Linked DNA regions of Homo sapiens: region 2 is linked to region 1. Evidence: fine-mapped expression QTL. Tissue or cell type: whole blood. Region 1 holds a variant in brackets; the other region holds the start of a gene. All regions are shown on one strand. Distances are between the middles of the regions.

What was found. PIP is the estimated chance that this variant, and not a neighbour inherited with it, causes the effect.
Region 2: it holds the start of INF2, and the variant in region 1 is fine-mapped to the expression of INF2 in whole blood (TOPMed, PIP above 0.99).

What each region holds. Positions count from the first base shown.
Region 1 is chr14:104,715,682-104,718,357 of GRCh38, reverse strand. All of the region lies in intron 22 of INF2 (inverted formin 2), which reads right to left. Among named protein-coding and RNA genes, the nearest start is that of ADSS1, 7.2 kb to the left of the region's middle. The variant T/C (reference allele first, on the strand shown) is at 1,392.
Region 2 is chr14:104,688,579-104,691,254 of GRCh38, reverse strand. INF2 (inverted formin 2) reads right to left here and starts at 1,637. Exons shown (of 23, transcript NM_022489.4): 1 at 1,516-1,637. RefSeq lists silencers at 1,124-1,173, 1,264-1,503, 1,524-1,613, 1,714-1,973 and enhancers at 1,666-2,655, 2,656-2,676.

The DNA of each region.
Region 1 (2,676 bases):
AGCCCTGCCCCAACAGCTCCCGCCACCCAGACGGCCCCCACACATGGCCCCACAGGCCTCCTGCCCCCAACGCCCTCTTCGCTTTCTGGTCCAGGGGCCCTCGATGGCCCTTGTCTGAGTGTCACCCCCACTGCCACCACAGTGCCAGGTGGTGTCCCAGCTCCCCAGTGGGATGGCCCAAGCAGGGTTTGAGAACCACTACTCTAAACAGACAGCAAGAAAACAAAAACTATCCAAAACAATCACTCAAAGGAGGGTCTCAGCACCATTCCCCACTCAGGGAACCTGGAGAAATGGCCAAGACCAAGGCCCGTGCAGGGATGGGGGGATCAGCAAGTCTGGGGTGAGCTAGGAACAGGGGCTTGTGCCAAAGATGGGAAGCGCTCAGGGCCCCCGCTGGTCCCCATCAAATGCACGGCAGTGGCAGTGAAGGATTACTGCACGTTCAAAACTCACGTGATGGAAAAAGGGAGGGGAGGGGGGAACGCTCGGACGAGGGGCGGCGAACACAGAACCGCGCTGCAGCGGTTGGTTCCACAGGTCACCACCGGTGCTTATTAACCAGACAGCGTGGTGTTCGTGCAGTGGAGGTTCAGAAACCACCCCCGCAGCCGTGGTCAGCGCTGCTGCCACAAACGTCCCCACCCAGCTGGGGAGGACATGGCATCCCTTGGGGTAGAACTCCTGCCCCAAAACTCAACCTGGACCTACTTGGGGGCGCAATCAGGCAAACCCAAAGTGAAGTTATCTTCCAGAACGTCAATGTCATACAAGACAAAAAGGGGCAGGAATGTTCTAGAACAAAAGAGACTGAAGTGATATGATAACCAAACACAGCATGTGACTCTGGATACAATCTTGTTTGCAAAAACAACAAAGCAACAACTAGAGAAGGAATTATTGGGGCAAGTGGCACATCTGCACTGGGACCGAGTATTAGAAGCATGTGGACGTGAAGCGCCCCACAGCGGACCCTGCCCGGGGGGGACTGGGAGGACGGCAGCGCACCCTGCCCGGGGGGGCGGACTAGGAGGACGGCAGCGCGCCCTGCCCGGGGGGGGGACTGGGAGGACGGCAGCGCACCCTGCCCGGTGGGGGCGGACTGGGAGGACGGCAGCGCACCCTGCCCGGGGGGGACTGAGGAAGACGGCTGTGCTCTCAGGTGTCTGTGGGCGAGTTTAGGGCTCCAGTGCCATGATGTTTATAAGAAACTCTCAGATGCCTCAGTTGGAGGGGGGCAATGTAGCAAAATGGTCACAATTTTGGTATTTTTGGCAAATGGTTGTAATTTCGGGGAGAAGGTGTTGTTCATTCTGATCTATGCAGTTTCCTGTGGTGTTGAAGATTTTCTAAATAAAAAGGTGGGGGCTGGGCACGGTGGCTCACGCCTG[T/C]AATCCCAGCACTTTGGGAGGCCGAGGCGGGTGGATCACCTGAGGTCAGGAGTTCGAGACCAGCCTGACCAACATGGTGAAACCCTGTCTCTGCTAAAAATACAAAAAATTAGCCGCGCGTGGTGGCGTGTGCCTGTGGTCCCAGCTACTCGGGAGGCTGAGGCAGGAGAATCACTTGAACCTGGAAGGTGGAGGTTGCTGTGAGCTCAGATCGCACCACTGCACTCCAGCCTGGGCAACAGAGTGAGACTCCGTCTTGAAAAAAAATAAAAAATAAAAAGTTGGGGAGAGAAGAGGACTTCTTCCTCTTGCCCTCAGCCACGTGCGTGGCAGGAGCTGGGGCGGGTGGAGGCTAAGCACGTGTAGCAGGTTCAGGAGGGAACCAGGTGGAGCGTGGAGCTGGCACTGGACACGTCCATCTTTCACTGGACCATTGTCAGATGTGGCCGCCCGCCCCAGACCTGCATGCTCCACTGTTCCTCACACTCAGGGCCAGCAAGTCCAAGTTCCAGCCTCTAAGGGAGATGCCAGCACCTTTCTAAAAAGTACACGTGGGTGCTTCACACCAGAGAGCCACACTCGGAAGATGACCCTGGAAGCAAAAGCTGGAACCCAGGGTGAAGGCCGTGCCCCAACAGCGAGGACAAGCTGTCCGGAGAAGCTTCTCCGGGGTCACGACTGCTCTTGCCTCTGATGGGCACCAGCAGACCTCAGGTGTGCACCTTGAGCCTAAGCCCCAGGCCCAGCGGTCAGCATATTTGTGATGCACCGACACCGGGCTGGCTCTGAGCAAGGCTGGAGGTGCTGGAAGACGCCACGACCTGGGCTCACAGAGCTCATGATCGGCCGGGCTGGACCTTCTGGTTCTCTGCTCTAGCCCCTCCTCCACCCAGTGCAGGCTGGTCCTGTCTAGCTGGATGCATTGGCCTCTCCAGCCCTGTGGACGGACCTGGCTGATTGACCTTTGGCTGGTCGCCCCCCAGAAGACTCGGTGTGCGGGGGGTAATCTGCTTCTCCATAGACCCACCCATGGCCTCGGGGTGGGAGGACACTGTCCAACAGGAGGGGGGTTGCAGTGTACTTGTCCCTGGCAGCATCTGCCCTTGCGACTGTCCCGGTCTCCTCACAGACTTCCTGGGGACATGCCCCAGAAGGCCCCACGCCATTGACACACTTAGAGTGAAGATAGCCCTCCACCAACAGACAGAGCAGGAAAGCCACAGGGTTACTGGAACTGCAGTTAGCGCCAGGACACCAGACAGGAGCAACCTCAGCCTGTCCTGCC
Region 2 (2,676 bases), 27 kb after region 1:
AACTGCACTTTGATGGAAGGCGCAGAGTCTATTTCAGGTAGGAGCTTCCACGTCCCCACATGTGCGGTGTGTGTCATTCGCTTGACAGCCGTCAGCTCCTCCACAAAGTGGGCGCTCACCTGAAGGTTAACTCAGGAGCCCTGGCTGTGGAGGCTACAGTCGCACCTGGCCACTTGGTCCGTCCCCACTAGCGACATCCCCTTTGCCGGGCTGCAGGGCCCATGACAGTCCAGGGATGGGAGGGCAGGGCCTGGGCAGGGCCCACTGCACCAACCTGGCTTTTAGAACAGAAAATTGCTGCTGCCCTGGTAGGGGTGGGAGCAGTGTGAGGTCTCAGACCCCAGGCCTGGAACCCAATGCTACTATTTGCTGCACTGGGGGCTGAGCACCGACACCCCAAAAGCCCCTGGCTGGGTGGCACCCTCGGGGTCTGAGGCACTGCTCTGGGACCCCACCTTCCCAGTGCAGGGCGGCAGGGAGCAGGTCCCAGCCTGAGCTGCTGTCCCACCCTTCAGAGTGCAGATGTGGAAACTGAGGCCGGAAGAGGGCGAGTATCCTGCTCCATTCCAGTGCCAGACGGAGGGGCAGGGCTGGCAGTAAGGGAATTTCCTACGTCCAGCGCCTTCTGGGTGTGCCTGACCTCTGGCCCGGTTCCTGGGTTCCTGGTTCCCTGCCTGGGCAGGGTCTCTGCCTCTCTGCCTCCTGGTGTGTCCAGCTGGAGTGGGCAGTAATGCTGTGGTCACAGCTGAGCTGCGGGAGCCCTGGGTGGGGAGCTTGAGCCCCAGAAGGCCCAGACAGACAGACCACCCCCCACGCCTGTGCTCCCCAGGGGGCATTGGGGACGGTCAGGGACACAGCTGGTCACCCCGCCTTCCCCTCCTTAGTCATGGTCACTCCTGGGGCGACTCCCCAGTTAGAGGGTTGACGGGTGGGTCTGGGGGCGTACAGGGATTGGATCCTACCCCACCCAAAAGGAACAGAGAGCTGTGATGGAGGCTGATTCCCCTAAGCCTGCCAGCGGTTGCGGGGTGGGAAGGGCTCCCTGTGCGCCCACCTGCGCGTGGGCAGCTGGAAGCCAAGCAGTCAGGGTGGGGCCGCAGGCCGGCGCGCACCTCGGGGTGCCACCCGGGCGGCGGACCCGAAGTTGAAGTTTATTTTCCCAACTGTGGCTGATTCATGGTCAGGATGTGGCAGCCGCGAGGCGCGGAAATCCCGCCTGCCCTGGGAGTAGGCCCGGCCGACCCTGGGCCCACCACTCTGCGGCCAGTGCGCGCTCGGGCGGTGCCTCGGCGCGGAGGACCATAGTCCCGAGCGGGGCGCGCGGAGCCGGGGGGGCCAGGGGCGCCCTGGGGTCCCCGCCCGGGAACTGTACCCTGCGCCGCCGGACCGCCCGCCGCCACCTGGGCACACACGCCGCAGCCCGGAACCTCGCTCCTGGACCCAAGCACGCCCCTGCCTCCTCCCGGACTCAGTTTCCCCTGAAGCTCCAAGCGGACCCCGAGGCCAAGGACTTACCCGGTGAGGCAACGGCCAGAGGGCGGTGGTGCGGCCGGCGCTCCGTCCGGGGCCGGGTCAGGGGCTGCGGGCAGCCGGCGCCCACTGCCGCGCTCCGCAAGGCTCGGACGGTGGCTCCTGGCGGGCGCGGGGCGGGCGGGGCGGGCGGGAGGAAGAGGAGGTGCCGCCCCGCCCGTCAGCGGCCACGTGGGGAGCGAGCGCGGGCCGGGGGCGGGGCCTGGGGGGGGAGGTGGGTGGCTGGGGGTGGCCCCGCCCACTGTGGCCGGTCCCTGAGGGCGCTTTAAGGGGTCTCCCCACTCCCGTGAATAACCTGGCCGCCCCCTCGCGGTCCCTGCTGGCCTGGCTCCTGGTGGGCGGAGATGGGGGTGGGACGCGCAGATCGGGGCCGTCTCCCGCCTCAGCCCCCACTGTCCGCCCCGTCCCTGCCCTCCACCGCCTCCCGTCCACCTACACCCCTATCCTCCGGTGGGACTGGCCTCCCAGGCGCCGCTCACCTCTCTCTGCCCCGGCCCGGGACTCCCGTTCCAGCCAGCCGGATCCGGAGTCCCCGCGTTCGGGGATCCCTCAGCAGAGATGGCTCTTCCCAGGCTTTGGGGAGAGAGAGCCTACCCATCAACCAGGCCACCCATGTGGCCTCCTCTCCGCAGCCCTGCCTGACCCCCTTCCACCCTTGATGGGGTCTCGGCGGTCTTGGGCAGCCGCACTTCGCCGGTTGGTGGAGACAGCTGCATGAGGGCCGCGGAGGTGTCGCAATGGGGTGGGTTTTCTCTGCCACCCCTCTGCTGTCCGGCCTCATCTGTCTCCTAGATTGAGGGGGGCACCCATCCCCCCACCGCCGACATTGACCAGCATGGGGCGTGCCCATAGTCGGCTCTGAAAGCCAGCCTGGTTGGATGAGAGCCAGACCCCAGCTCTGGAAGTCCCTTCTGACGTCTGACCCTCAGTCAGAGCTGCAGGAAGCAGCGCACCAGGCCTGGGGTTTGGGGGCCACTGGCAGCTAGAGGGAGGGCAGAGGAAGGCAGGCCTGGGGGAGCCCCCGTGTGACATGTGACAGAGCAGACACAACCCCTGCCCTGAGAACCGGCGCCAGCACTCCCTGTGCGGCCTCAGGCTCGGATATGACTCTGTGGAGCCTCAGTTTCCCCATCTGTAAAATAGAAT